Homo sapiens: one gene and its partners. The protein of the gene in region 2 interacts with the protein of the main gene of each other region in a biochemical or structural test. Each region holds a gene or a part of one and is shown on either strand. Other genes may lie near its edges.

The links.
Region 1: the proteins of BLNK (region 2) and KIT form a complex in vitro, tested with the Homo sapiens proteins (one large-scale study listed by BioGRID and IntAct).
Region 3: the proteins of BLNK (region 2) and ERBB3 form a complex in vitro, tested with the Homo sapiens proteins (one large-scale study listed by BioGRID).
Region 4: the proteins of BLNK (region 2) and GAB1 form a complex in vitro, tested with the Homo sapiens proteins (one large-scale study listed by BioGRID and IntAct).
Region 5: the proteins of BLNK (region 2) and GRB2 form a complex in vitro, tested with the Homo sapiens proteins (3 studies listed by BioGRID and IntAct, with this or other methods).

The regions. Positions count from the first base shown.
Region 1 is NC_000004.12:54,658,815-54,665,720, forward strand, and holds part of KIT (mast/stem cell growth factor receptor Kit isoform 1 precursor), read left to right. Parts: intron 1-6,906. UniProt on the Homo sapiens protein: Tyrosine-protein kinase that acts as a cell-surface receptor for the cytokine KITLG/SCF and plays an essential role in the regulation of cell survival and proliferation, hematopoiesis, stem cell maintenance, gametogenesis, mast cell development, migration and function, and in melanogenesis.
Region 2 is NC_000010.11:96,187,146-96,193,450, forward strand, and holds the end of BLNK (B-cell linker protein), read right to left. Parts: intron 4,948-6,305; coding exon 4,828-4,947; 3' UTR 2,026-4,827; downstream 1-2,025. UniProt on the Homo sapiens protein: Functions as a central linker protein, downstream of the B-cell receptor (BCR), bridging the SYK kinase to a multitude of signaling pathways and regulating biological outcomes of B-cell function and development.
Region 3 is NC_000012.12:56,096,228-56,101,278, forward strand, and holds part of ERBB3 (receptor tyrosine-protein kinase erbB-3 isoform 1 precursor), read left to right. Parts: intron 1-275; coding exon 276-395; intron 396-520; coding exon 521-619; intron 620-817; coding exon 818-1,003; intron 1,004-1,557; coding exon 1,558-1,713; intron 1,714-2,272; coding exon 2,273-2,348; intron 2,349-2,531; coding exon 2,532-2,678; intron 2,679-3,420; coding exon 3,421-3,518; intron 3,519-3,610; coding exon 3,611-3,802; intron 3,803-3,946; coding exon 3,947-4,018; intron 4,019-4,833; coding exon 4,834-5,051. UniProt on the Homo sapiens protein: Tyrosine-protein kinase that plays an essential role as cell surface receptor for neuregulins.
Region 4 is NC_000004.12:143,435,774-143,442,679, reverse strand, and holds part of GAB1 (GRB2-associated-binding protein 1), read right to left. Parts: intron 4,682-6,906; coding exon 4,080-4,681; intron 2,879-4,079; coding exon 2,793-2,878; intron 2,602-2,792; coding exon 2,298-2,601; intron 1-2,297. UniProt on the Homo sapiens protein: Adapter protein that plays a role in intracellular signaling cascades triggered by activated receptor-type kinases. Plays a role in FGFR1 signaling. Probably involved in signaling by the epidermal growth factor receptor (EGFR) and the insulin receptor (INSR).
Region 5 is NC_000017.11:75,330,840-75,337,745, forward strand, and holds part of GRB2 (growth factor receptor-bound protein 2), read right to left. Parts: intron 1,959-6,906; coding exon 1,861-1,958; intron 1-1,860. UniProt on the Homo sapiens protein: Non-enzymatic adapter protein that plays a pivotal role in precisely regulated signaling cascades from cell surface receptors to cellular responses, including signaling transduction and gene expression.

The DNA of each region.
Region 1 (6,906 bases), on a different chromosome or scaffold from region 2:
AGCAGCCGCTAGGTTGCAGACTTTTTGCTTTCGTACATCCCGTGCTCGCCCCTTTCTGCCGCGGCGCCGTTTCATTCCTGCCGCGCGCCCCGGGGCGGCTGGAGGCTGTGTTTGCCGCCTGCTCCGGGAAGGCAAGGGACAGCGTGCTGGGACTCTGCGTTCCCTGACTCCAACCGCCTAGCACGCCGGCCAGAGTGCCCGGCCTGCCTGGCGGGTTCTGAAAGCCCCTAGTTCCCGGTGTCTGCGACCTGTATTCGCAGGTCCTGTTTTCTTCGGAAATTTTTGAGATTCGTGACCGCCCGCCTCCCCGCCCCCGGGACTTCTATACTTCAGGGCTGCCTGGGGGTGGGGTGGGAGATGGCGTGGAACTTTCTGCAAATCCTACTCAGTTCTTAAAGCTATAACAGAAATCCAGGTATATCCGCGCGGGAACTGGGTCTTAGGTGAAGGATTTGCAGGTTGCTGGAGCCCCTTGGTCAGATTCCTGCCTCCCGTTCCCTTTTTTCCAGGTGTCGCTGGTGCGGGCGAGTGCAGGTCGCCCAGCTCACCCCTGAAGCCCTGCTATCTCCCAGGTCATTTTTTAAAACAAACCTTTAAGGTTACCCTGATGATGTAAGGATAGAAAGTGAGTCTTAGCTGGAATCAAGCGCTTGAAAGGAAGCGGCGCAATGAACGGTTTTGAGACTGTCGACTACCGGTCAGTTTCTCTATAAAGTCTCCAGGCGCAGTCTGCAGCGTCCTGGACTTGTAACTATTGTGAGGGCTTTCCTGTGGGGGGCAGAGAGGCCTTGCATCTGGACCCCTGTGCAGCAGGAGGGGTCAGCAGGGGTCACGAGGGAGTGTTCGGATTCTCTGGAGGATTTGATCACCTAGCTTAAAACAACACATCTGGTCTTTATGTTTTTGTGCCTTGACCTTTTTAATATCAGTTAAGCTATGTGAACTAGAACCTAGTAGGAGACTAGAAAGACCACATCGAATATCTCCCTTTTAAAAAATTAAAAGAATCAATGGTTTTCTTCTCCCCAATAGATTTTTGGCAAAGGGAATTTTAAGGTCTGTCTCCTGGGGGGGCAGTGTGGTGTAACGACAAAGCCTTGCTCTGTCCCCTGGGTTCTCGGTTTCTCTGCCATTTCTTGGCTGCGTGCCCTTGGCCAGGTTGCTTAGGGCAGGTTGCTTAAATTCTGGGAAACGCAGTGTCCTCCAGAGTACAAGGAGGCATCTGCATCATGAAGGATCCTTTGGGTCCAGAATTCTCCTCCAATGTTCTGAGTGTAGACTCAGCACTCTTTTTAACTATTCCCCTGGCCCCTGTCTGCCTCTTTGAAATTCCTCTGCCTCTCCTGCTCACAGGGAAGTCATAGAGTATGGGTGCATCTGACCGGTCTGCCCCTGACTGAAGCAAGGAGCTGTGGCTTATGCTTACTGCCCTTCAATTCCCATATATTCCTCTGCATTGCCCTTTGAGGGCCCCCGCCCCCCAAGTATTACAGCTCCTGTGCCTAACAGGATGAACCTGCTAGGAATAGTGAATCATACCTTCCCCGTTTCGTTCCTGCAGGTGTGAGGCTGGAGTCATTCTCAGCAGCTGGACACAAGGCACTCTAAATTATTATCCTGCTGGAAATAAGAGACCCCAGATAATTCATTTATCCCTATTCTGTTTTTTCCCCCACTCATTCCCATTTTTTTTCTCATGACTCTGTAAATCATGTAATGCTATGCATTTATAGCATGCTTTCTAATGGGCCTTAAGTTTCGTATGACATGTGTGGTGTACATAGTTGTTGCTCTTCAGTTGGAAACTGTGTGCCAGGCCTTTTGCTTGGGGCTTTACCTATTTCTAGTAGTCTCAATGAGCCTAGGAAGTAGTACTATTATTACCCCTAACATTTTACAGCTGGAGAAACTGGCTAAGGATAAGCCCTAAATCATCAGTGGTGAAGCCTGATGAGATTGGCTGCATGTGCCCAGCTCTATAGCCATTCACATGATTCACCAGAATCTGTTGTAAGACTCATTCAAAAATATTTAATGAGTTTTTACTATGTGCCAGGGATTGTTGGAAGTTCTGGGAATACAGGATGGCCAATGTCACTACCTTCCCAATTTTGGTGAAAAATATTTAGAATTGCGTGTCTTATGAAAGCGGATTATTTGTGGAGGGAGGATTAATTAAATTTTAGCTTGGAGGAAGGGCTGTAGGCATTTGACCCTGTGGTATGTTGGCTTAGTTGTTAGCTATCTCATTCCAGTTAGCGTCCCTCAGAAATGAAGGTAAGCTGTTTCTAAAAGGATGATGCAAGCCAGTTAAAAATCCATCTCCCACTCCAAAACATAAAAATGGTCTTGTGCATAGGTGTGAAAGAGAACACCCCCAATAATGGCTGATGTCATTGGCTATTTACCCTGGATAGCATGGTGAGAAATAATGACAATCTACCATCCAAAGCCATTTTTTCTCCCAAAAGAAATTCTCATCAGAAATGTGCCAAGTATTCTGCGGGCTTCCCTTGGAGAACATTTATGTACAGATGTTGTGGTGGTGATGAATTTTGCTGCTGTTGTTGACAGCCCTTCGAAGTTACCCTTAGGGTTTTGACTCATTTCCTCAAGTCTCTTCCAGCTGATTAAAGAAGGACACGAGGAAATGAACCTCGGTGTCTCTAGCGGAATTCTCAGAGCTGGCCTGCAGTGTGGGGACCCCTTCAAGGTAGTGGTCAAGGCTGTGGCAGCTTTTTCTTCAGAATGAATGTAGTTTAAGAGTTGGCAGGCTAGGATGTGGGAAATGCTTTCTTTTGCTGCATTAATGTGCGGTAACTTTTAAAAGTTGAGATTGAATGACATTTGCAGGAATCCAAATATGCAAATTTCATGTGCAGTTTTGGTAACTTGAATAGATATTGCCACAGCTATAAGTCCGGATTGAAGAAGGCCTGGGGAAGAGTTAGAGGAGGTAAAAGTTTGCCTGGAGGGCAAATCCAGTGTAAATCTTTGTTGTACTTAGAGAGGAATTGAGTTGAGTCATAGAGAGGAATTGAGTTGAGTCGGCTTGGCCCAGCAGCTCTGATTTCTGACATTTTTTGGATGTGATCATACAGCTCATCTTTTGACCTAAGACTCTTAATAAGTAAAGAGCAGTTGTAATCTGATAGCCCGAGGAGACATGTTTTCTTTGGCCTACATGATGCTTTTTAGAAAACATTGAGGCGATATTAAACAATCTAGAGATTTTTTTTAAATCAAGATCTCTATTTCTGTCTCCTCTTTAAGAATTGAAGGTCATGGCCCCTGTAGATGAGGCCTGTGCTCTTCAGGTTGCATTAGGCTCTAGGGCTTTATCCTGCCATCCCTTAGGCATTCCCCACTGGGCCCTGGTGAGTGCAGGAATCCAAATATGCCCCTGGGACCAGGCAGATGACAAGTGGGAGGAGACAGGCCGGCCTACCTTGTGTTGGTCTGATGGCTTCATGACTGACAGCTTGATGGCCTTAGAGCAAATTGTTTAACCTTTTTGAGCTTTCATTGTCCATCCTAGTTTTGCCACTTATTAGCTCTGTGACTTTCGGCAGATTACTTAACCTCTCTGTGCCAGTAAATGTGTTGCTACATGTAAAACTTTTAGAGTGGTGCCTCATAGTACAGGCTCAATATGTGTTAGCCATAATTATCGTCTGTAAAACAGGAATTATTATTGTCCCTAAAATGGGAATAATGCCTACTCTTTTAAGATGATTGCCCTAAAGATTAGAAAGGCATTTTTTTTGTTTGTTTTAAAGACAGTATCTTGCCCTGTTGCCCAGGCTGGAGTGCAATGGCGCAATCTCGTCTCACTGCAACCTCCACCTCCTGGGTTCAAGCGATTCTCCTGCCTCAGCCTCCTGAGTAGCTGGGATTACAGGCACCCGCCACCATGCTCGGCTAATTTTTGTACTTTTAGTAGAGATGGGGTTTCACCATGTTGGCCTGGCTGGTCTCGAACCCCTGACCTCAGGTGATCTACCTGCCTCGGCCTCCCAAAGTGCTAGGATTACAGGCATGAGCCACCATGCCTGGCCGACAGTTTTAAAAATAAGCTTTAATTTTTTTGGTCTTGTTTTATTTAGCTTTTGATAAGAGTTAGGAAATCACTAGTCCTAGAGATTGAATAGATCTTGAACTTTTTTTTTCTCCAGGGGGGAAAAAAAAAAACTACACATCTTGTAAGATTCTCCAACATAACATTTGTGTCTGGTACTTTTCCCATTCATCTTATGTTTTAGCTTTCATGCTTACATTTTGGTTATGACACACTTTTGTTAGACATCTTCCCATGCATACCTTTCTGACAGGTTTTCAACATTTTTGCAAAATTTAAGGTTTAAGCCAAATTATTATTCAGGACATGTGGCATCAGTTAATTACGAGCTTGGGCTCTGAAATTGACACGCTGGATTTTTATTCCAGTTCTGCCTCTTCCCTGCTGTGTGCTCTGGGACAAGACACTTAACCTCTCCTTAAGCTTCATTTCCTCATCTGTAAAATGGAGATGATGACATAGGGCCCCTGCGAGGATTAAATGAGATTCTGCATGTAATATGCTTAGCATAGTGCCCCGCATAGAGGAAGTGTGTGGACTCCACTATCAGGCTGATTTTCTTATGTTCCCCTTTCAGCTTTGCCTCTTAGAAAAAAATTGAAAACGTGTAAACAGAATATGTAGAGTGGTTTTTTTTTTTCGTATTAAGATGAAGTTGTTAATTAGTGGTAATGCATGTTTATCTGCTTGGCTCTTTGTTTAGCCGTATTCTTGGGTTACTTTCCACCAAAAGAGATACAAATTTCTTGATAAAAGTTTAGGTTGGGGGAATGTCTGCAAATGGCCATTTTCTGTAGGTGAATAAGTACATGTAGTTCACCTAGGGTCCATGAAAGCAGTCAAGGAGCTTTTCCATGACTGCTTTCACTAGGAGTTCAAGGACCAAGCTGAACTTGTCCATTGCCCCAGGCTAGACACAGCGGTTAGTGTTCAGTAAGTATTAGTTTAACATCTTTTCTATTCTCCAGCACTTACACTAAGCTTTGAACATAAATGGTCAGTAAACATTTTGGATTCAGTTTAACAAAGGCTTATCAATCCCCATGCCTTGGTCCTACGTTACAGGCTGGGGGTGGAGGAGGGCCAGGGCAAGAGCACAGCCCCTGATTCGAAGTAGAATTTGGTTTTCTTAAGTGTAAAGTGCTCTGGGCAGGATTTTCAAGGAGATGAGCTTAAATCTTGATGGGCAGGTAATAGAGATCAGGAATCAGTAAGAGCATCCACATAGGAGATAATATTTGAGATTAATTTCTGAACCTTAAAGGAAGAGGGCAGTGTAGTTGTGGCTTCAGCTGAAAAAAACTACAGTACAAGGAACAAGGCATTAGGATCTTACTTCAGGATTATCAAACCTTTCTATTGGTATGATGGCTGGGGGTAGGGAATTGGCTGGGAAGGTAAGACTCCTCTTACTAGCCTCAAGGAGCATGGAGGGAATGTGTATTTAGTGCTGAGTTTGGTCTAGGTTATGAAGAATGCTTTGAAGTCAAGGCTAAGGTGGACTTGACCCAGGAGTGGCCCCCCAGGCTTTGCATACTAGTCCAGGGCTGCCTGTTCCACCATTCTGTCCAATTAGACATACTCCCCAGCCTGTTCCAATAGTCTGACGAAGCGAGAGGCCAAGCCCTGCCTTAAAACTTGGACACTCCCTTGCTGTGGGCAACCAAGACTAAGGGAGAGTCTGTTTTTATTATTTATTTATTTATTTATTTATTTATTTATTTATTTATTTATGAGACAGGGTCTTGCTCTGTTGCCAGGCTGGAGTGCAGTGGCACGATCATAGTTCACCGCAGCCTCCACCTCCTGAACTCAAGTGATCCTCTCATCTCAGCCTCCTGAGTAGCTGGGACCCCAGGCGTGTGCCACCACACCGGCTAATTTTTTTATTTCTATTTTTGTAGAGAATAGTCTCGAACTTATGAGCTCAAGCGATCCCCCAGCCTCAGCCTCCCAAAATGCTGGGGTTACAGATGTAAGCCACCACACCTGGCCTGTTTTTTTTTTTTTTAATAGTAAAACATACATAAAATGAAATTTACTACCTTAATCATCTTTAAATGTATATTTCAATAGTGTTAAGTACATTCATACTGTTGAACACTTTCATCTTGCAAAACTGAAATTCTATACCCATTGAAGAGCAGCTCCCCTCTCCTTCCCCCAGCTTCTGGCAACCACCATTCTACTTTCTGTCTCTGAATTTGACTATTCCAGGTAACTCGCAAATGCAGAACCATACTGAATTTGTCTGTTTTTTGACTGGTTTATTTCACATACCGTAACATCCTCAAGGTTCACCCCTATTGTAGTATAAGTCAGAATTTTCTTCCTTTTTAAGACTGAAAAATATTCCATTGTATGTATAGACCACATTCTGTTTACCTGTTCCTCCTTTGATGGACATTTGGGTTGCAAACAATGCTGTAATGAACATTTGCATGTAAGTATCTAAGGGAGATTTTTCGTGGAGACTATTTAGGAGGGTTAAACTCATGGCTGCGAGCTACATGTTGGGGAGCTGGGCAGAAGATGGGCTCTTTAGATTATCTCTGAGTGAAGGGGTAGTGGACCTGGGTATTAGGGTACATGCTTTGGAAAGAAAGCGCCCTTAAGAGACACGAGGAGGATAAAGGTGCAGGTCTTCTCTCATTCGGCGTATTTATGGGCACCTTCTGTGTGTCAGGCACTGATGAGATTGAGGGGAAGGAGAACTGGAATTATCATGGGTGTAGGTAACTGGGAGTATTGTTGATACTATGGAATTAGTGGAAATAAAGCCAAGAGGAGGGGTGGCCTATTTGAGGGAGAGAATATGATGTTGGACT
Region 2 (6,305 bases):
TCCTAATACACAATTATAATTACTAAGTGTTCTAAAATATTTATAGATGGGTTCATTTAAAGAGTTATCCACAGATCACTTTTTATGTCTGCAAAGAAGATTTTGGTTAGGGGACTAGGAGGTAATGTTTATCAGGCACCACTAGCTTACTTTAGCTCTTGAATCATTACTGGAAAAATATTGTTTACCCTTACCTAGAAATAGAGGCTGAGTTATATGGTGTCTTAAGACCATTTTGAAGGAGAGGAATTCAGTCCTTTTTTAAGAACATGTCTCAGGTAGTGCTGGTTTTGCCTCACATCGCTGAATTCTGTTCTCTGGGACTTTCTTTTAGGCAAGACTATCCCAGCTACTACAGTAAGAGTAGTTTAGCTCCCAGAGTGCAAGGTCTCCAAACCATTGCCCTGGCTAACTTATGATAACACACAATCAGGCTTGTGCTGGACACAGGCGTAGCTTTTTCATGTCTATTGTCCTTTTGAACAAACTTGAAAATCTTTCCTACTACCATAGCTGCAATCTACTTTTCAACAGAAGACAAGAACTGGGGTGTGGTTTTTTTCCTTCTTCAGCTGCTACACATGTACTTCTTGACTAGTGTCTCCTATTCCACCACCTAGCTTGCCTGAAAATTTCTTTATGCAAAACCATTTGTTTGTCAGCCATTGAGACATTGAGATCACAGACAGGTGTTTGAAATTTCTTATTTGTTTATTTTGAGACAGAGTCTCACTCTGTGGCCCAGGCCAGAGTGCAGTGGCATGATCTTGGCTCACTACAACCTCCGCCTCCCAGGTTCAAGTGATTCTCATGCCTCAGCCTCCTGAGTAGTAGCTGAAATTACAGGCGAGTGCCACCATGCCCAGTTAATTTTTTCTAGTTTTAGTAGAGATGGGGTTTCCCTGTGTTGACCAGGTTGGTCTTGAACTCCTGGCCTCAAGTGATCCACCTGCTTCGGCCTGCCAAACTACTGTGATTATAGGTGTAAGCCACCATGCCCAGCCTCTTAAAGACTTTTCTAATCTCATCAAGAATACCACTTGCAGAGGTGGGCTTTAGAGAAGCAGGTGGGATCACCCTCAGTGGACTCTTCTGCAAGATGAGGGAAAAGACTGGCATGTTGGATTGGGTAGTTCTCCCAGCTTTGGGGAGGAGTAGAGCCCTTAGCAGAGAATGGCCTATCTCTCAGAAATTCTCCCAGCCTCTGCTCCAAGAAATCCACCACGCAGTACTGTATGTCAACCAACTGAGGATTAGTATAATCTTAACAGCTATGCTATTACCTAGCTGGAGTAGGACACTTGGAGGAGGAGAGGAAGAATGAGGCATAAGAGGTTGTTATAGAGCCAGGGTTGCTGTGGTAGCAGTGGGAATTAATGAGGATTTACTTAAATAGAAAATAATTCCGTGTAACACTGAGGAAAACTGAAGCTAGAGAGCTGATGCCACATACTACAAACAGATGCTTTGCTTTACCAAAAAATTACCCCAGTTTCCCAGTTTAAATTGTGAGTCATCCTTTCTAGTACATTCAAAATGATTCAATGGTTTTCCTAAAAGGAGAAAAAAAACCTTTCCATACAAAATTTCCCAAACCCCTATATACCTGAATGTAAAAAATGCATATAAATTTTATTAGGTTTCTATGGCCGCCATAATAAACTGGGTGGCTTAAAAAGCCAGAAATTTATTGTCTTCAAGTACTGGACACTCAAAGTCCAAAATCAAGGTGCCACCAGGGCCATGCTCCCTCTAAAACCCGGAGGGAAGTCTGTTCTTGCCTCTTCCTAGCTTCTGATGGTTTGCAGGCAATCTTTGGTGCTCCCAGGCCTACAGATGCATCACTCCAGTCCCTCATCTTCATGTCGTAATCTTTTTTTTCAATAGAAACCATGCTACTTTATTAAAATGCCAAGTTTTAGTTCACATGTATATTTTTGTCTCCCCACCATTTCCATGTTCTGACCACTGCTACTACTATGTCCTATCATAACATTCCATACATATTTAAAACCAAGCAAAGGGTGAAGTTCCATCTTTAATAATGAAACAGGCATTTTGGACAACACATTCTTGGCAATGGAACCTGGACAACATTTATTAAACACAGTAGGGAAAGTTCTCACTCTGCATTATAGAAAGGACAGCCAGATATTGACTGTTAGAGAAATGAAATAAGATGGAAAAATGTTAACAAATTGTTTAAACTATTTTCTAAAGAGACTTCCTCCACTGCCAGGATCTTGAATAGTCTCCTGGTCAGTTGTCCGGAAGCAATTCTTCACATAATTGATGAACTTGGCTTCCACTTTGGGAAGAGAACCACCTTTTTCTATACTTGCTTGCATTTTTGATTTAATGTCTTCTACAGAACTAGGCCCTTTTGGTGTTTTACGAGTTTTTTCCTGTTTTTTGAAGGATTCTTGTCCTTTTAATCTTGGTGTTGATGATGGGTTTGAGTGTTTTCTATTCTGATTTGACTTTTGTGCATTTTTGGCTGGAGTATGTAGATTTCTTCAATGGTGCTTTTTCTTCAGTTTCCTCATCATCAAAATCATCATCATCATCATCATCATCATCATCATCATCTTCATCAGCAGCAAGTTTTACTTTTATTCTCTGGAATCTTGCTACCACCTCCAGGGACAGATCACTTTCCAGATATCCTTAAGAGTTTCACATCCTCCTCCTCTTCATCTTCTGACTCTGCATCTTCCTCCACAGCTACTAAATGCTGTCCACTAATATGCACTGGCCCTGAACCACACTTCAACCATAAAAGCACTGGTGGTGTTATTTCAAAGACCCCAAGGGAAACTGTTGGCTGTACAGACATTTTCAAAGGTGCCAGTGTTATTTAATTGGACTGCCTTCATAATTCATTGCCTCTGCTTCAACAATGTGCAGTTCATCCTTTGCACCAGCCCCTAAACTGACCGTTCTTAAGGATAACTGGTGCTCATTTTCATCATTATCCACCTTAAAGTGATCATCTTTGTCGGCCTTTAGTTCACAACTGAAAAGATAGTTCTGGGCCTCAGGGGGCTCACGTCCATGTCCATCGAATCTTCCATCAGGTGGCGGCACACACTTAGGTGGGAGAGAAAGCAGACGGAGATAAACGACCACTGCTCAAGAGAACAGCCATACAGGATGGAATCACGCCAGTAGTATTGTTCCTGTGTGTCTCTTCATATAGTCTTCTCTCTGTGCCTGCATCCAAATTTCCTAATTTTATAAGGACACCAGCCATTGTATTAAGGCCCACCCTACTGACCTCATCTTACCTTGACTATATCTGTAAAGACCTCATTCCCAAATAAGGTCACATTCTGAGATATGTGGCCTTATGGATTAGGACTTCAACATATCTTTTTGAGGGGACCACAGTTCAATCTGTAACATAGGTGGCAATTATGAAAGTTTATGACATTTAAATATACAATTATCTTTAGAAGTGAGTCATGAGTTACCCTGAAATTATTACCTTCTGGCCTTTCAACATACTTTCATAGATTGCTATCTTATGCAGTGGCCAAGTGTGTTCCCCATTTAATTATTAGACTTAATTAGCTGCTTTATCACTTCACTGCTGTCTGAAGTACACAGTAGAAATATATGACAAAGTATGATACATTTCTGGGATGATCTAAGACCTTGGACCTGATTCTCCACGATGGTATCTCTTTTATTCCTTGGTGTTCACCAATGTCTGCTTTTCTGCTCTTGTTTTGTGGGATATTTCTCTAGGAACTGGCTTTTAGTCTAGCTTTGCTGTCATTCCACTTTGAAACTTGATATGGTTTGGCTGTGTCCTCACCCAAATCTCATCTTGAATTGTAGCTCCCATAATCCCCACGTGCCATGGGAGGGACCTGGTGGGAGGTAACTGAATCACGCGGGCAGGTTTTCCCATGTTGTTGTGATAGTGAGTAAGTCTCATGAGATCTGATGGTTTTATAAAGGGCAGTTCCCCTGCACATGCTCTCTTGCCTGCCACCATGTAAAACATGCCTTTGCTTCTTCTTTGCCTTCTGCCATGATTGTGAGGCCTCCCCAACCATGTGGAACTGTGAGTCCATTAAACCTCTTTTTTTTTTTTTTTTTTTATGTAAATCACCCAGTCTTGAGTATGTCTTTATTAGCAGCGTGATAATGGACTAATACAAACCTCATATCAAGTTTAGGTTCTATTTGATAGACATGTAGATCAAAGAGGGTATAATTATCTTTAGTAAGCAAAACTAACAGCATAATCCTAGACAAGAACTTATAGAAAGTTCATATCCATATATATATATATCCCATGGTTGAGAGTGCTCACAAAAAGGAACCATTACATCCTTCTTGCCTATACTTACAGATATCATACATTACCTTTAATACCTTATTTTCTACAAATTAAAATTTTAACCAAGACTTAATTGTCAAGCATTGGCAGTGGAGAGCCCAGCTACATTAGTGTACCAATGATCATTGTGGAGGTTTAAATTTCCAGCCACTTTGTTTTATGCAAGAGCATTATTTTCTTATTTTGATAATATACTTTACACTTATTTTTAAAAATAAAAATATTTATTTGGAAAATATTAGTAGCATGATAACTCAACCTCACCAGATATTAACAGTTCATCAGGTCAGGCAATAGAACAAGTCCACATGAGCTTCTTAAAAAGAAATGGATGACCACTTCAATAGCTGACTCCATCTTCCATTTTATTACTGGATGATTCATAATCCAAAATATGAAGTTTTGGGACTTTTTCTCAAAAGGAGAAACTTTGGGAAAGTGTCTGAAGCAATGGTATTGATCTTTTTTTTCCCCCTTTATGAAACTTTAACTGCATACTTCAGTCTGGTGGAATCTTTTGTGTTATTCTGACTGTCAATAAGAACCAAAGGACTATGTTGATGATTCCTGATGATTTCAGCAACACTTCCAAAGTACTAGAGGAAGAAAACATAGATGAATTATACTTTGGCATTTGTGTTAAATTTGAGCTCCACTCCTCCCATCTTCTCTCATTCTCAAGTTAGTAAAAGTTATTACACCCCAGCTGACATTCTGCACAAAAAAATCTAGTTTAACAAAGGCTGTAACCTTCAAGGTGGCAGACCTTGGACTTTGCTGTATTAAGTACGAAGAAAAACACACTGACAGCCTCAATTAGCATAGCTACTTAGAGAGATTACTTCACTGAGTTATGATAAAATATTATAGTATATTGCTTTTTATTTACCGTTAAATGTAAAACTATCATACAACGCATTTTTCTACATTCTTTACAAAACATAGATCATCTCTTACTTTGCACAAGTCTCAGATACAAGAATTGATGTAATAAATTAACCTTAGAAATTTAGTACAAGGAAATAGTCATCTCCTAAACAAAATTATGTTTTGTTTTCTTTTTTAAACAAATAAAGAAAGCTTTATAAACCTTCATATTTCCATTTTTACTTGGTTCCTGGTAAGCTTAGAGTTAACTTAGTGCCTAATTAATAATGAAATTTCATGCTAGGCTCTCTCCATACATACTTATTTTTCCAAATTTTGATCCTTGTTGTCTATGGGTTTTAATTTAAAATTATCACAAATTTTGTTCTGAAAAATAATTAAAGTTTTGAAGGAAAGATAAAAACAAATGTAACACAGATCATGAAATTAAATTCATTGAGTATACAAAAGTGCTACAAGTTCACACTCATTAAATGTATTTAGAATCACTTTTTAAAAGTGGTGATTGTTTTACAACAGTGCCATGAGTTTAGCAGTTACTATCAATTGATTTTATTTTCTCGATTTTTTAGATAAAGACAAACATCCACAGTAAAATTTTTAAGTGTTTATTAATTGTTTGGATGACTTCCAAGTAGCTACATATTGAATAAAGTAAAATATTCAGAATATTGGCCAACATTTCCAAATGAAATACCAGTTGTCTTTTAGATAATTGGCTAGCTGAATATTCAGTCAGGGAGAGAGGTAAGAGACAGGGACTTTCAAATACCTTTAGTCTTTATTCTTTACTTCCTATTCAATCATTCAGCCATCTTGCAATTGCCAAAGAAATTCTTTCATTATAAATCCCATTAAACATTCATTCTGCTTGTTTGGCATAATATGTTGCTAAACCAAATGCAGTTGAAAGTTAAAGTTATGGACTCAAGGGCCAGAAAACGAAATAGCACAATCTCTTTGAAGTGGATTACAAGGGAAAAAGTGTGTCCTGAACCTAGGAAGCATAGGAGAGGATTGCTGTACTTATACAAACAAATATCTCATTCCGTCCCTCTAGTCCCTG
Region 3 (5,051 bases), on a different chromosome or scaffold from region 2:
TACCAACTCTCCCTAGCTGTCCCCTTCCCCACTTTGTGCTCCTCCATCAAAGGGAAAACCCAACCCCTTTGATTCCTGATCTCATGAGCACAAATAACTTCCTCAGTTCTCAGGGTCTGTACCTCAATATGCCTATAATCCATTCCAGGACTAACGGTGCTTCCTCTTCCTGCCCTTTCAGCTGTGCTGCTTTTGGCATTCACCTATGAGGAGCGGGTTGGAGTGGGACATGGGAATGGCCTTTCCTGAGTAACTCCTTCCCATTTGCTCCTCAGAGCATAGAGCCTCTGGACCCCAGTGAGAAGGCTAACAAAGTCTTGGCCAGAATCTTCAAAGAGACAGAGCTAAGGAAGCTTAAAGTGCTTGGCTCGGGTGTCTTTGGAACTGTGCACAAAGTGAGTGACCCATAGGAATTCTGGAGAGGTGGGGAAGGCATCTAGGGCAAAGGGGTGAAAGATTTTTGCATAGGATTGACCTAGGGAGAATGACCTTATGCCAACTCCTGCCCCAAACTTCCCAGGGAGTGTGGATCCCTGAGGGTGAATCAATCAAGATTCCAGTCTGCATTAAAGTCATTGAGGACAAGAGTGGACGGCAGAGTTTTCAAGCTGTGACAGATGTAAGTGAAGGAAATTCTGTATGCCGCTAGGAGAGAGGACAATATTAGATACAATCATGTAGAAGCAGGGTCCTGTGCTTCTCAGCAGCTACTATGTTAGCCAGAATGTTGGGGGTGGGGGGGCCTGGGCTGGCTGTGCACATGCTGAGTGTATGTGAACCTGTTGGTTTCCTAGATAATACCTTTTGTGTCTCTTAGCATATGCTGGCCATTGGCAGCCTGGACCATGCCCACATTGTAAGGCTGCTGGGACTATGCCCAGGGTCATCTCTGCAGCTTGTCACTCAATATTTGCCTCTGGGTTCTCTGCTGGATCATGTGAGACAACACCGGGGGGCACTGGGGCCACAGCTGCTGCTCAACTGGGGAGTACAAATTGCCAAGGTGAGAGAAGCCTGGAGGAATTCTGTGATAAGAACTGCTTGTCTGGGGGCCAGCCAGGAAAAAGTGAGAAGGTTGAAGTTCTGAGAGGTGAGGTCCCCAACCCCCGGGCTGCAGACTGGTACCAGTCCATGGCCTGTTAGGAACCAGGCCACAGAGCATGTGAGCGGCAGGCAAGCGAGTGAAGCTTCATCTGTATTTACAGTCAGTCCCCATCACTTGCATTACCGCCCGAGTTCCGCCTCCTGTCAGATCAGGGGCAGCATTAGATTCTCTTAGGAGCTTGACTTCTATTGTGAACTGTGCATGTGAAGGATCTAGGTTGTGCACTCCTTATGAGAATCTAACTAATGCCTGATGATCTGAGGTGGAAAAATTTCATCCCAAAACCAACCCTCCCCTTCCCCTGGAAAAACTGTCTTCCACAAAACCAGTCCCTGGTGCCAAAAAAGGTTGGGGACCACTGCTGAGAGGTACCTTCAAGATTTGGGGGAATTCCAGATCTCAGTGACTGATTCCCCCAACCTTAAGAATACTTTCTTCCCCTATACCTACAGGGAATGTACTACCTTGAGGAACATGGTATGGTGCATAGAAACCTGGCTGCCCGAAACGTGCTACTCAAGTCACCCAGTCAGGTTCAGGTGGCAGATTTTGGTGTGGCTGACCTGCTGCCTCCTGATGATAAGCAGCTGCTATACAGTGAGGCCAAGGTGAGGAGACACAAAGGGTAAGGAGGCGGGGGTGGAGTGAAGCATGGGGATAGGGAGCAGCCAGTGGTCTCTTCCAGAGGCAAGCAGATGCTTCATGGTAAGTTCAAGGAGAGAAGGCTGCAGATGCCAGATATTTTAGTTCAGAGGGCAACAAATAAAATAATGATCAAGAACTTGGGACTGGCCGGGCGCGGTGGCTCACGCCTGTAATCCCAACACTTCGGGAGGCCAAGGCGGGTGGATCACAAGGTCAGGAGATCAAGACCATCCTGGCTAGCACGGTGAAACCCCGTCTCTACTAAATATACAAAAAAAAAAAAAATTAGCCAGGCGTGGCGGCATGCATCTGTACTCCCAGCTACTCGGGAGGCTGAGGCAGGAGAATGGCGTGAACCCAGGAGGCGGAGCTTGCAGTGGGCCGAGATCGCACCACTGCACTCCAGTCTGGGCGACAGAGCGAGACTCCGTCTCAAAAAAAAAAAAAAAAGAATTTGGGACTTGGAAATCCTAAGAAAATTTGTGGAAATAAACTTGTGATACCTCTATCTTTAATCCGCAGACTCCAATTAAGTGGATGGCCCTTGAGAGTATCCACTTTGGGAAATACACACACCAGAGTGATGTCTGGAGCTATGGTCAGTGCATCTGGATGCCCTCTCTACCATCACTGGCCCCAGTTTCAAATTTACCTTTTGAGACCCCCTCTTAGAATCTCTAAGCACTTCAGATTTTTGTGTTAGATCAGGTTCTGCCTTCCCTTCACTTCATGCCCATGTCTACTATTTTGCCAGTGACTAGTCCATGTCTTCCTGCAACAGGTGTGACAGTTTGGGAGTTGATGACCTTCGGGGCAGAGCCCTATGCAGGGCTACGATTGGCTGAAGTACCAGACCTGCTAGAGAAGGGGGAGCGGTTGGCACAGCCCCAGATCTGCACAATTGATGTCTACATGGTGATGGTCAAGTGTGAGTTACCTGCTGAGCCCAACCATTTTCTCTTTTTTTCTTTTTTTTTCTTTTTTTTTTTTTTTTGAGACAGAGTCTCACAATTGTCACCCAGGCTGGAGTGCAATGGTGCAATCAATCTTGGCTCACTACAACCTCCGCCTCTCGGGTTCAAGAGATTCTCCTGCTTCAGCCTCCGGAGTAGCTGGGATTACAGGCGCCCGCCACACCTGGATAACTGTTACACTTTTAGTAGAGATGGGGTTTCACCATGTTGGCCAGGCTGGTCTCAAACTCCTGACCTCAGGTGATCCGCCTGCCTCAGCTTCCCAAAGTGCTGGGATTACAGGTGTGAGCCATCATGCTCGGCCTGACTGCAGCCATTTTCTGACTTCCCTCTGTACTCCTCTTATGGCTCTATTCCTTTTTTTTTTATGGAGTCTCGCTCTGTTGCCCATACTGGAGTGCAGTAGCGTGACCTTGGCTCACCGTGACCTCCACGTTCCAGGTTTAAGTTCTTCTGTCTCAGCCTCCCAGATAGCTGGGACTTTAGGCGTGCACCACCACGCCCAGCTAATTTTTTTTTGTCTTTTTAGTAGAGATGGGGTTTCACTATGTTGGCCAGGCTGGTCTCAAAGTCCCGACCTCAGGTGATCCACCCGCCTTGGCCTCCCAAAGTGCTGGGATTATAGGTGTGAGCCACCGCGCCCGGCCATGGAATGTATTCTCTTTTATGTCTCTACCTCCTACATCTTATCTCCAGGTTGGATGATTGATGAGAACATTCGCCCAACCTTTAAAGAACTAGCCAATGAGTTCACCAGGATGGCCCGAGACCCACCACGGTATCTGGTCATAAAGGTGAGTAGGGAGTAGGAGGTGCTAAGGAAATTTAGAAAAAGGAGGAGTTGGCTGGAACCAGGATTCCCCCTAACAATCACCTATCGATATAGAGAGAGAGTGGGCCTGGAATAGCCCCTGGGCCAGAGCCCCATGGTCTGACAAACAAGAAGCTAGAGGAAGTAGAGCTGGAGCCAGAACTAGACCTAGACCTAGACTTGGAAGCAGAGGAGGACAACCTGGCAACCACCACACTGGGCTCCGCCCTCAGCCTACCAGTTGGAACACTTAATCGGCCACGTGGGGTAAGACAACTTCTAATTACCCAACACTTTGCACCCTGAGCCCTCACAAACCCTACAGATACCCAGATTAACTACTCAAAGGCCCCCATGGTGAATGTAGATTTCTCCCTTCATCTTAACCTTTTCCTTATTTTTTCATCCTAGAGCCAGAGCCTTTTAAGTCCATCATCTGGATACATGCCCATGAACCAGGGTAATCTTGGGGAGTCTTGCCAGGTAAGTTCTGTTGCTGAGAGGCTGGGTTTTAGGATCAGATTGATACGAGTAGTATGGAAGACATTAGAAACCTCTGAGGTTTAATCAGTGTCCTGCAAAAAAGAAGGCAGTGAGGGCCGGGCGAGTTGGCTCACACCTGTAATCCCAGCACTTTGGGAGGCCAGAGAGAGTGGATCACCTGAGGTTAGGAGTTTGAGACCAGCCTGGCCAACATGGTGAAACCCCGTCTCTACCCAAAATACAAAAATTAGCTGGGTGTGGTGGTGCACACCTGTAATCACAGCTACTCAGGAGGCTGAGACAGGAGAATCGCTTGAACCCGGGAGGCAGAGGTTGCAGTGAGCTGAGATTGTACCACTGCACTCCAGCCTGGGTGACAGAGCAAGACCCTGTCTCTTAAAAAAAAAAAAAAAAGGCCAGGTGCGGTGGCTCACGCCTGTAATCCTAGCACTTTGGGAGGCCGAGGTGGGCGGATCATGAGGTCAGGAGTTCGAGACCAGCCTGACCAACATGGCAAAACCCTGTCTGTACTAAAAATACAAAAACTAGCTGCACATGATGGCAGGTGCCTGTAATCCCAGCTACTCGGGAGGCTGAGGCAGGAGAATCACTTGAACAGGGAAGCAGAGGCTGCAGTGAGCCAAGATAATGCCACTGCACTCCAGCCTGGGCGACAAGAACAAGACTCCACCTCAAAAAAAAAAAAAAAAAAAAAAAAAGGCAGTGAACAACCCAATATCCTTCTAAACAAATCTCTCTTCTTTCCTCATCATGTAAATTTCCTTGCATTATTTTCTGTTTATTTTCTTCCTTAGGAGTCTGCAGTTTCTGGGAGCAGTGAACGGTGCCCCCGTCCAGTCTCTCTACACCCAATGCCACGGGGATGCCTGGCATCAGAGTCATCAGAGGGGCATGTAACAGGCTCTGAGGCTGAGCTCCAGGAGAAAGTGTCAATGTGTAGGAGCCGGAGCAGGAGCCGGAGCCCACGGCCACGCGGAGATAGCGCCTACCATTCCCAGCGCCACAGTCTGCT
Region 4 (6,906 bases), on a different chromosome or scaffold from region 2:
CACTAAATACATAGGGATGTATAATTATAAAATATGTAGTATACATGATACATAGTATATATTCTGATATATACATAAAATATATATCATAATAATGTGGGATACATGAGTGATATCAGACCTAGAGGATACTAAAAGCTAATCATTAATTGATCTTAGGTCTTTTCTAACTTATAAACAGTGGTGTTTCCTGATTTCATATTATGCTTACCACATGGAATCACAACTGTTGAAATATACTGGAGTTTTCAAACTGTGCTCTACAGAGCTCAAGGGGAGAAAAGAGCAGCAGAGGAGCAAGGGAGGTAGGACTTAAAAGCTTTGTAACCTCACCCAAATCTTACTCCCTCCACATTTATGCGAGACCTCAAAATATAAAACTGTTAGGTTTGGAGTTAAAAAGTAGAGATCTGCCACTAACATGCACTCGTTACTGGAAAATAAGGAAAGCACCAGTTTAACATTAAAAAAGATATTTCAATATTTCAAAGAGTTCATGACACTTATATCTCAATCCTTCAGTGATCTGTATGAACCAATTATAAAGCTATACATGTCCAAACATATTTTTGCATATTATATGCAAAGAAAATGACTAGTAGTTGTCTAAAATAGATTTAGAGACAAAGAAAAAGGAAACAAAAGGAAGCATTATCCGATAGAAAGCCTCTGATGCTCACATCCTTTCTGAGATCCACACCGCAATCACAGCCCTGCTGCCAGGGCAGACTGGGTCGTCGTGGGTGTGACACACATAGACCAATCACATCATCTCTAAGCAATCTAAAGTGAGTAAATAATAAGTAAGGCAATGAGAAGCTGATGCAGAAGCTGCAAGGGCACATAAAAAGCAGCTAGGAGGCAGAACTGAGGCCATAGAAGGGGAGCATTGGAGGCCAAAGCTCTTGGAAAGCAGAATCCATTTAAGTAGAGGATACAGAGTAAGAAAACAAAAAAGAATCAGAAAAGAAAACAGAAAAGAAGGGAAGAATGTGAAAGAGAACAAACCAGATGCAAAGATTTCCCATAAAACAGAAATGCACAGAGAGAGCAGGACACAGCAACAGTCCCCTAGAATTGCTTCAGTTCCTGATAACCTCCTTGTTGAAGGAGGTTAACCTCCTGTTGAAACGAGGAGGTTATCCTTACTTACAAACAAAACCAAATCTTTTTTCTTAAGATAGTCTGAGCCTCAGTCTCTTTTCCTCACAACTAGGACTTAATTAGAACTAATATTAATGATCTAAGCCCAGGTTAAGGAGAAATTGATGCCAACATTATGTGGTCTTAAAAAGCTACATATAGCACATGAGACTTTTCAAATGTGCTGAAACACCCTAATGTAAGCCAGATATTGTATCATTCATCACATTTACATTTATGCTAATTTACTTGGTTGTCAAGATTAAGCCACACTAACAGCATGGTGCAACAAATCAAATTGTCTGTGTTTTAACAACTTAAACCCCAATTTAAAAAACCTGGGTAGGCATTACCCAATTTGGCTGAACAGTTTCTTTTACAGACTTCTTAACAAACTATGTTACCTTAGAACTTAATGTTACTTATGAAGGCCAGCATGGAAAAAAAAATGACAGACTAGAAGCATGTATTACCCCAGCAAAGGCAAAGTAATTTTTAAGAAGTTGTTATATGAACAGAATGGAAAGATTATACAGTCTCACTGTTCTTAAATAATTATGTCAAATACATTAATAATCTTAAGTCTGATTTGATATTATATACTCTGGAGAAGAGGTTACTAAATAGCAGCTGAAGGCCATTATCTAGCTTGCAGAAGTGTTTGGGTTGGCCTGCAATGTTTTCTTAATAATTAAATTAGTTGATAGAACTTTAAAAATTGAGAGATAATACATATAAAATCTGAAATCTCTGGCTTTTCCTGATATACCAGAAGATTTGCCTGCATGGGTGCATCATTTCACAAGTCAACAAAGGATTGTAGCAGTGTAGGTTAGTTACTCCCATTAGATGGGGCTACGGCAGTCCAGTTTCTTCTAATTCTCCCCAGTTGTCCGCTCACCCCGTGAGTATTTCAGCTTGTAACCTCTGCTCTAGAGATAGGAGACTTATAAATATCACCTCACATCAACATGTGATATCATAATTGTTAATTTATAAATGGCAGTACTGCTTTGCTTAAATAACTTGATGGCTATGGAACTATGAAATATTTCAGAATTTCTAGTCCAAATTCTATTTTGGATTTAATGGCAGTTAAAGATAGATCTAACTTGGCACTCCCCAAGCCTTTTACTTTGCCATGCTCTCCTTACCTTTTCTGTCTGGCTTGAGGTTCCTATCCACGGGGGGTGGTTCACAGTCTGCAACAGGAACTGGCCTTCTGGGAGGGGTTTTTGGGCTGGACCTGAAGCCCATATGAGCAGGAGGAGGAACTTGCATTCCAAATGAGGAAAAATCAAATGTTCCTGGAGTCATTGGCACATAATTTGCTTCCTGAATTGGTTCTGTAAAACTGCTGGAATGTTGTCGTGGTGGTGAATTGGGATTCATTGGGACGTAATTTTCATCCAGTTCTTCACTTGAAACACTTCCCACTGTCAACACATTTTTGACTTTCTAAAACACATATATATTTCTTTTAATAAACAAAAACTCTTGTCACACATGAAAACACAATTGTAAGTCACACTCATTCATATGGATCTCAGCGTACTTTTATTTCATGATATCACTTAGTCTCATGGCACTAATTATGAAGATTTAGACAATGAAATACACTTGATGATGCCAAGGTCAATTATACTTACAAAGTGGTTATGGAAGCCTTCAAGTGAACTAGATCTATCACTTGGAAATGCTCGTGGAATATCATAGCAGTCTTGAGAACTAGCATCTAAAATAAAGAACAAACTATCAACATTTATTCCCATCTTTGCCAGCTCTCAGGGTCATTGGGATGACCTATTATCTTTCTCTCATTATACATATGCATACACACATGCACACACACAGAATTTTAAAAAGGATGCTCATAGAACTGTGTCTTGAATTGGCATATTAAACCACTAGAAAATGCAGACACTCACTCATATGCTAACCAATACCAATATCTAATTTTGAGTGTGAGTGAATGTCTAAGTCTGGGATAAGATAGGTTATCTAAAGATGAAGAGAAACACCTCTATTTTCTCATCGTTTGCACCACCTTGGGCATAACTTACATCTCACTAACTGATAACCAGGTTATACAGTCACTTCAAGAAAGGAGTTAGATACTGTTATTGAATGGTGAAATAAGTACTGATTTAAGTAATAATCACAGATACATTAAAATCTTGGAGATAGCTGAGGAAAACTCTACCACAAAATACAGAAATTTTAGCACATACTGTTTAGGATATGTGCATTAAAAACTTTAGCTTTCTATTTGTAGGACTTTGAGAATCTCAGAGAATCACCCAGACTCATTTTTTTCTTCTCCTCTCAAGGTCTGTAACTTTTGGATACAGACTCTAGGAGACAGTATAGGAAAGTATACTCACTAGCAATGAGTGAAGTGGGTAGTGATAAGGGGAAAGAAGATTCAGCTCTTTAAACACAAGTAAAAATCAAACAGCATAATGGCTTGACTGGAACAGAATATCACCTGTTAGACACAACATAAAAACTGCTTATATAGGAAGGAAGGAAATAGAGCCCAACAGATGTGACTTAGAAGCGGCCATAATGGCACACAAATACAGGAAAGGGTATGACTCGGAGAGGCTTTGTGGCTGGTCCATTTCCTGCCCTTCTGTCCCAACAGAGGGCCTATCCACCCAGGATTATAGAAAGTGGGAGAGAGAAGGGCACACTTCCTGAGGCAGGAAGGCATTACTAAGGCCATACTTCTTCAGGGGTGAGAAACTCCAACTCTTTTTCCCTTCCAGCAGAGCATGAATGCAATATACCCTTCCAGGTAGCTGTAGAGCTGGAAAAAAATGGACTGTATTTTGTAGCATAGTATATTTAACTACGCTTAAAAGAACAAATATTCAGAAAAATCGATTTTCTATCATTAACCTCTAATAGAGAAGAAGTCAACTAGAGCTGACCTTTTCGCAATTTGTTTAAATCCACAGTGGAAATGGTATTACTACGTGAAGGCGACATCCCTGCTGTAGGGATACAGTAACTACTGTCAGTGTCTGAGGCGGTGCGTGGGATACTACACGTTTCCACAGGAGATCGGTCATGAGCTGGATGTGGTTTCGGTGGCCGAGGTGGAGGAATATCTGGAATAGTGTCTAGCTTTGATGTCTGTCCCAAGGTTCCTTCTGGAAATGTTCGTGGAATCTGATAAGTATTACCAGGTGTTGGAGGAATGTCATAACTAATAGATACATGCCTCATTTGAGTCTCTACACTCGATGTCCCAGATGGGGTATTAAAAACATAGAGTTCTCCATCTGCTTCAGTACTTGATGGAGACACCTTTGGTAAAACATCATGGGAATAACTCCTGGGCAGGTTATAAAGGCTGGAGTCAACTGAAGCAGATGGGGCACGTGAAGGTGGAGAGTCGTATATCATTTGCTGCTGAAAAAAGCCATTCATTCCATGTTTGCTCTGGGAGGAAGCAGGATTTTTATGAGAAGGGACGTTATCATTGCAGTCTGTTTCAGAAGAGGTGGATTTTGCAGAATCAGCATGCGTTCTAAATAAAAATTGTTAATGACAGAATAAACAAGGTGGAGACTAAGAATACATTTTTTATAAACATGTTTATCGCTAAGCAATCAAAAGATAGGGCTTTTCTCATTAGATTTTTTGTGTGATCCATAGGATTTAAAGCACAAATGTTCTTTAGCCTTTATGATTATACATCAGACAACAAAACCGCCACCACAAAACCAAGAAAAGCATTCTCTCTAATTCTGTCCTATATCTGCCCACACCCCCAACTCCACCTATTAAATCTGCACATAAAAACACAATCCCTGAAGCACTGGAATTAAACATTACAAAACTCTGGGAAAGGTAAATGATTAATGCATAGACACAAGGAAAAGCATTTCCTCTGAAGAGCATGCAAAAACCTAGTGCTAGTACAGTTTATATAGTTGATCCATTGGTCTTAAACCTCCCCACGGCAAATTTGTTGTTCCGTAAAATTAAAAGTCTAATGATTACTTGGTATTGAATAAGGTCAATGTGACTTACAAGAAGGTAACATCTAATTGTTTTCATATATCTTCCTTTCCACTACTTTTCTTTAACAAACATTTAGCCAACATTATAAAGAGGATCGAAATACGTGATACAGAGTTAACCAACTCCAAACAATAACTCACTTTGAGAAATCTCATTAAAGTACATTTATGAACATTTTCGGTCTCTGCATTTTGAGGTATCACAAAATTTGGGTATACGACAAGATGAAGCTAACAACACAAGCACACTCTCACTTCCTTAATGCTAAACAAGATACCTGAACTACTTCTGCATGTTGTCCAAAGTCCTGTAGGAATTTAAACAATATTTCTTTAAATAACTATGATTTTTTTTTAAAGGGCTTACCTTCCCTGACTTCTTAGTAACATGTGGCACTACGCTCTGTAAAGTCTCCCCCTTTACTATCAGAAAACCCACATTGTGCCACATTGTGCTTTTGTTTTCTCCATCTTAAAAAGATCTTAAAACCCTTCTCCCTTGCTGATTATTTCCTTGTTTCACTTACTGGCTCCTTCCTCCCGTCTCTCTCCCTGGGAATGGCCAACAGAGTTCAGTCCTCTAACCTTTTACCATACACGCTATTAGAGATCATCCTCCTTTTTCAGAACTTCATTTTCTTCTCTGAATGCTGACAACTTCCATCATCTTACCAAATTCCAAGTCCCATATTCTCAAACTAATATTTCTACTTGGTTACTCCAGTATTACCTTGCTTGTGGGCCTCAAATAGAAATCCATTTACTTCTTAAGTTGACTGCTTTTCCTGGCTTGCATTGAAAGAAATGACTTTATCCAGATTCTCCAGGCTTAAAACTCAATCAGCTTGATTCCTTCTCTTTGATTTCCAGTCACGCAGGCACCGAGCCCTTCTTCTTAGCCGCGTACTTATTCCCTTGTTCTATTCCCATTGCCACCATCCCAAGTTCAGGTCCCCATCCCTGCTGAGATCTACATGACTGAACTCTCCTTAGTGGAATTTCCTCTACTGTCTGCCTCTTTCAATCTATTCATGGGACCAGACTTCTATAAGATCAATATTTTCAAAACACAGTTGTTATACCACTCATGTATTCAAGAGAAAAACCTAGTAAGGGCCCCTACAGGGTGTGGGAACTATAAGGCCTCACACTAATCCACTTGACATTGAGGTTACTAATAACCTGGCTCCACCTTCTCCATCCTATTCTTCAAGAGGCTCTCCTCCTCATTATCTTCCTCCCACCATGCTTGCTCACATCTCTCCTTTCCCTCAAGCTATTTTTGCACAAATTACTAATGATTTTCTTCTCTCACCAACTAGGTGTAGTTCACATTCCATTCTTCCTATGAAGCTTTTGTTTTCTCCATCTTAAAAACACTTGCACTGTCCCTTTGTGGAATTTCTAATGCACCTATGCATATTCTAAAATTTGTACTTCATTTAATTCAAATGCAGAGTTAAGAGAAGCTAGAGGAATTATGAGTAATAAGTAAAGCTCCTTGCTCTGACTAGCTTACAGTTAGTGAAGAGTAAGTAAAAACATCGTTTCTAACACTGCGATAAAACAAGATATGAAGGCATAACCAGGATGCTATAAAAACCCAGAAAGATATTTAAGCTAACTTGGGAGTTTGAGAGGAATGCTTCCTAGAGGAGCACATTCTAACTAAAGTCTTGCAGAACAAACAAGAGTTTGCAAGGCAACTCTGGTATATTATCTTCATCTC
Region 5 (6,906 bases), on a different chromosome or scaffold from region 2:
GAAAAGCACATATTTGGATCCACCCCTCAAGCATATACAACTCATGCTGCAGCACTAATGCCAACAATCATTTTGTAGTCTAATTTGTTAACTTGAATGCTGCATTAGCTGACATGGTGCTACATTTTATGCTTCCCTCTTCCTCCATAACCCCTGCTCCCCACCCCCACAAACAAACAAACAAACAAACAAAAAAACAGGAGGTGGTAGGATGTGGAGGAGAAGGCCTGGTACTGACCCTGACCCTATACTCATGAACATCCAGCCACAGAGCAGCCCTATACAACAGCAACTACGTCTGCAAGGCCAAACACCTACATAGGCACAAGCATGGTCTTTGTTAGCAATATGGTAGACCTGAATAAATAAGGGTTTTTAAGTTGCTAGTTGCCTTTTCAGAGCTCAGAGTGGCTGAGCACTGCCCACCCTTTGGGCAGAGTCTGCAAATAACAACACAGCTGAGCCTGTGCTGGGTGCTTCTCCATCAATTCTTCTAAAGTTCTTCATAGTGGGGACAAAAGGTCAAGGCAAGGGAGTGACTGTCCCAGTCAGCCTGGCAGTAACTACAACTTTCCAAGGAAGGTAGCCTTTCCTATCTTTCCTCAACAGTCAGATTTAAATGCCTGTGTCACCCGAAACACTGAAGAAAAATAAGAATTTCGAGCCACAGGCATGTCATATAAGAAGTGTAGTATGATGTTCTGTTGAATTCCCTTTCAATCTGAAAATATGAAAACAAAAGGGAACTGAAGTCGATGTTGTGTTTGGATCTAATGAAGGAGCCAGCAAACAATAATGGCCTTCTGCCCAAATCTGCCCACAACCTAAGACTGTTTTTTAAATTTCTACTCGATTGTTAAAAGAAAATTTTTACAAGGAATATTTGACAGGATTGTATGCAGCCCACAAAGTCGAAATTACTTGCTATCTGGCTCTTCACAGAAAAAGTTTAGCCAACCCTTGACCTACAGTTTCTTTTGAGGACGACTGAAGGAAACAGAAGTACACAAATTATGTGGCTTATATGGGACCTGGGGAGGATGTGCTGTGATCCAACAGGCCCCTCCCACTCAAGATGCGACAAGCCACCTGAAAGTCTCCGCCACCAGCTGCTGTGAAAGCAAGTGGACAATGTCCAAGGGCATTCTAGTCTGAGCGTGGAAAGCCTCAGCTCCCCTGACACACTTGTAAGGCAAGCCAGCAACTGCTTCTGTGCTAGGAGCAGGGCCTGTGAATGAGGGGTGGGTGAGAACGGGAGGACAGTGGTCTGCAGGGGCTCTCAGGGGTCCACTATGTTGCGTTATTAATAAAATCGTGACAAGGGTAGCTTCTGAAAAAAAATTAAAAATATTCACTGCTCCCAGCAGCCTGGAGGACAGCATATTTTGTTCTCTTGTAAGTAGGAACACTAAGATGGAGGGATAAACATTTATTGAGAACTATTAGATGCCAAGCACCGTACTCTGGGGATACAAAGATATTAAGATACCGTCCCACAGCATTAGCACATATAAACACAAAATCATCTAAGTACCTTTTCTAAAACTCAAAAAAAATGCAGAATTATAAAACACATCTGGCTCTAAGACATATTTAACAGAAAAAGAATTACGGACCTGCACCAACTATCGTTTTATTTTTGAAGATCACTGACAGTTATTATCAATCTAAAACATATAATATTATTGACTATGATATATTATTATATACTATTAACATGCACAATCAATATCCTTTGTTAATTCCCTAGAAACGTGAATAAAAAGTATGACATCCATCCCAGTGATCTCAATTTTAAAAAGAGTGTTTGAAACAAGGAGGTGGGTCCAACCCTTCCAAGACTAATGGAGCTTAACTTACGGATGTGGTTTCATTTCTATGTAGTTCTTGGGAATGAAGCCGTCTTTTCCATTAAGCTCTGCCTTGTACCAGTTCTGATCACATTCTTCGTTCAAAACCTGAAAAGAAATAAGACAACAAAAAAACCCAATCATTTCCTTTTCCCTTTAAAAAGATAGTTACAAGACAATTATGCTATCTTTTAGGTCTGTGAACGGTTTCACTCGAAGTATTATCAGTTATACGGATATAAGACTCCTTTTAACTTCAAACAACCAGCATTATGTTAAACTCTGTTAAAATGAAACAGAAATTATCTCTGAAAATGAAAATTCAGGCTCCCAAACATCTGGAATGAAACCCTCAGTAAGGAAGGAGAAAGAAGAATGGCAAGTATTAGTTGTTTTTTTTTTTTAAGACGGAGTCTTGCTCTGTCGCCCAGGCTGAAGTGCAGTGGCGCGATCTTGGCTCACTGCAACCTCCACCTCCTGGGTTCAGGCGATTCTCCTGCCACAGCCTCCCGAGTAGCTGGGATTACAGGCGCATGCCACGTTGCCCAGCTAATTTTTGTATTTTTAGTAGAGATGGGGTTTCACCATGTTGGCCAGGCTGGTCTTGAACTCCTGGCCTCAGGTGATCTGCCCACCTTGGCCTCTCAAATTGCTGGGATTATAGGTGTGAGCCACTGTGCCCGGCCAGTTTTTTTGTTTGGTTTGGTTTTTCTAAGAGAGAAACCTGGAGAAGAGGTTCTGGAAAATGGCAAACACATAGGAGAATAAGGGAGCCTGACGAAGACAAAGTCTACTTTCTGGGAGAGAGAGGTGTCACAGCAGAACTAAGCAGCAACAGAACCTTTTATTAGACTCCTCTAGAGATCTTCCAACCGACCTCCAGAATCTACAGTGATACAGTCCTGGATCCCCTCATGGCTTCTCTGGGTTACCGCAAGTACGGGTCACCCACCAAACAGCTCCAGAACACTGCTGCTTGTGAGGACAACCATATGCCCTCGTATGGGAAAACTATTTTCAGGAAAAAGCATGGCAAATCCTACTCAGTTCAATAACCCAAATGCCACATTGTATTAAAGTTAGATAGTGCTGAAAGCATATCAACCAGCAGAATTCAGGCAGATGCCTTGGAAATCCTGGAACTGAACCACTGCATTCTACAGATGTAAAAAAACAAGATCAATGGTCAACCCAGGTTACGAGGTAGTGACCCCACAGAGCTAACATCATGCCCAGACTTTCATATTTCCAATGACCGTTCTCTCCAATGCTGCCTCTTGAATTGCATGTACCAGGCCATGCATAGGCTAGGCCATGACGCTGTAATGTGTAGAGTAATACAGTAGTCCTCCTTATCATGATGGATACGTTTCAAGACCTCCAGTGGGTGCCTGAAACCGTGGATAGTACAGGACTCTAGATATGCTATGCTTTTTCCTACACTATACACATACCTATACGTTTTATTTTTTTTTAGATTTATTTATTTATTTTTTTTTGAGACAGAGTCTCGCTCTGTCGCCCAGGCTGGAGTGCAGTGGCGCGATCTCGGCTCACTGCAAGCTCTGCCTCCCGGGTTCACGCCATTCTCTTGCCTCAGCCTCCCGAGTGGCTGGGACTACAGGCGCCTGCCACCACGCCCGGCTAATTTTTTGTATTTTTTAGTAGAGACGGGGTTTCACCATGTTAGCCAGGATGGTCTCGATCTCCTGACCTTGTGATCCACCCGACTCGGCCTCCCAAAGTGCTGGGATTACAGGCACGAGCCACCGTGCCCAGCCGATTTATTTATTTTGCCCAGGCTAGTCTTGAACTCCTGGACTCAAGGGATTCTCCTGCCTCAGCCTCCCAAAGTGCTGAGATTACAGGTGTGAGCCACCATGCCAGTCCTACCTATAAGTTTAATTTGTAAATTAGGCACAGTAAGAGATTAATGATGACTAGTAGTAAAATAGAAAAGTTTTAACAGGCCAGGTGTGCTGGCTCAAACCTGTAATCCTGGCAGTTTGGAAGGCTAAGGTGGGAAGACTGCTTTAGCCCAGGAGTTTAGGACCAGCCTGGGCAACATAGTGAGACCCTGTCTTTATATTTAAAAAGTGTAAAAGAAAAGTTATAACAATATACTGTAATAAAAATTTATGTGAATGTGTTATCTCTCAAAATATCTTTTTTTTTTTTTTTTGAGTCAGGGTCTTGCTCTGCTGCCCAGTCTGGAGTACAGTGACACCATCACGGCTCATGGCATCTCAACTTCCTGGGTTCAAGCTATCCTCCCATTTCAGCCTCCTGAGTACCTGGGACTATAGGCACTTGCCATGTTGCCCAGGCTGGTCTTGAACTCCTGCGCTCAAGTATCCTCCTGCCTCAGCTTACCTAAGTGTTGAGATTACAGGTGTGAGCCACTGCGATTGGCCAAAATATGTTATTTATATGTTGGATTGCAACTGGCCGCAGGTAAGGGGGGACTAGTATATACGGAGCAGAACAGAATCAGGTACAGCGTGAAAGCCACCCTATGAATTCTAGACTTACAACAAAAGGCAAAGGGCAGAAGGCATAAAGTTGGTAAAAGATAAAACAAAAATGTGAATACAACCCCAAAATGGTGGGCCCAGGAAAATGTTGGCTAGTACAGTGGTAATCTACACTGCATAACAAAGTTCTGAGAGGAAACTGGTAACATTCTTTACAAAATGATTTATTCAAGATGTTGAACAATGCTGTACTCGTAGCCAATCAGAAGCTGGATTGCTCTAAAGTGAGTGCTGTCTGTGTACTGCCATTCAAAGTGAGATGCAATAGAAAGGGTAGATAAGAATGACAGATGATCGACAACTAGCCAGGCTGCATTAATGACTACGCTTTCTTAACAGAGGGTATGCCCTGCAGAGCTTTGCAATGCTGGTGCTTATCTGCTATGCTTACCACACTCTGACTGCAGGTGCCAGACACTGGGTTTCAATGCTTAGGATAAGGTGATAAATCCTGAAAGAGCTAATAAATATGTGTAGCAAACTCTCAAAAAAAATTAGCTAGTGGTAAATCCCAGTGTATTCAAAGTTTCCAAGAGTCACATAAATATTGATAGAGTATTGATGAAAACTTTCTTCTAGTCATCATTTTGTTTCTCGTAAAAAAATCACATCAAAGACTGGAATGAGATAAAACAATATATGCAAGGTACACTCATAATTTTTAAGTCTTCATTTTAAAAACACTGCATTGTGCTGCAGCCAGCAATGGTGCTGTATTGATAGACAATTATAAAGCACACACCAAGGACAAGTTTGAGGAGGGAAAGTGCGCTTGAACCCTGCCGGGCCACCACCACCTGCCCCTGTACTGGCAGCACAGAAAACTCTGAATAGCCTTTGAGAAAAGGAGCTACTTTAAAAGTTATTTAAGGCCAGGATTCTGTTATCTACCAAAAATAAGGTCTAGAAGGAAAATGTGGTCTAATAATGACCTTATAAAGCATCATCCTATAGTAATAATAAAAACCCCACAGGCTTATAAACAATATTTATTATTTTATTTCAGAGACAGAGTCTACGTTGCTCAGGCTGGAGTAGCTGGGACTACAGGTGCGTGCACCCATACCAGCTATGAAGAGTTTTTGAAAATGTCTTAACTCCTGAAATGGTGAGGTGTGTCTACTTTTACTGTATACACTTGTTCTTGGAAGACAGAGAGTCAGACTGACAAAGAGCTGCTTGTAACCTATTTGTGCATCAAAACAGAACAAAGTAATCATTAGAAAGGGACACTTTTGATTTGTGACCAATAACTTTGCAGAAAAAGATAACTCTATTTACCTGCCAGGAGTTCATAGAGCTACACTCTCTTCTTGTCACCTTTACCAAGACAGAGGCAAATCCCTCTAAAAAGTGTCCCCTCCCCCAACAAACACAACTCCAGGGCAACTCCTAGATTTGACATCAACTTAGAACTATGGCTGTCTACAGAACAAAAATTATTACTTGGTGTTTAGTATGTTTTTCTCCCCCAGAAAGAAGGAAAATATGGAATTAATGCTTTTAAAAATGTAATTTTTTTTTTTGAGAGAGTCTTGCTCTGTTGCTCTGTCACCCAGGCTGCAGTGGAGTGGCATGATCTCGGCTCACTGCAACCTCCACTTCCCGGGTTCAAGTGATTCAAGTGCCTCGGCCTCCCAAGTAGCTGGGATTACAGGCATGCGCCACTATACCCAGCTGATTTTTGTACTTTTAGCAGACACGGGATTTCACCATGTTGGCTAGGCTGGTCTCATATTCCTGGCCTCAAGCAATCCACCTACCTTGGCCTCTCAAAGTGCTGGGATTATAGGCGTGAGCCATCATGCTGGCCAAAAATGTAACATTTGAGTACATGAATGGTTACGATTTTGGTTATCTGGAAAATTCTAGTATCCAGAATATCACGTTATCAGATAGCCCAGGTATTGCTGCACATACCTCTAAACCTCTTCACTCTAGAATTTCAGAAAAAGCTTGGTTCTGCCGGAGGCAAAACACAGGATGAACAATGCAGCTGCAACCCTGAGCCAGAGACCAGGCCTTTCAACCCAACTGCTCCACCTGCACTGGGAGCTTGCACACACAAGCCCTGAAACTGGAGTGATGTAATTAGATGCTTAAAAATTAAGTTTTATTCAAATGTTTAAGTATACAAAACAGCTACTGAAGTGTCGGGTTAAAAAAAAAAAAGAAAGAAAAAGAAAACAAAACAGCAAAGAACACAAATGAATGTTGAAGAGCTCGAGGTGGCAGAGACCAGAAGCATCTGAGGATGAGGCTGCACCTACAAAGATTGTTTCATTTGCTGTGGCTTTAGGTGAAAGCTCACATCCTTCACAAATAATTTTTATTTTATTACTGTTACTATTTTTTTTTTTTTTTTGAGATGGAGTCTCGCTCTGTCGCCCAGGCTGGAGTGCAGTGGCACAATCTCGGCTCACTGCAAGGTCCGCCTCCTAGGTTCAGGCCATTCTCCTGCCTCAGCCTCCCGAGTAGCTGGGACTACAGGCGTCTGCAACCACGCCCAGCTAATTTTTTAT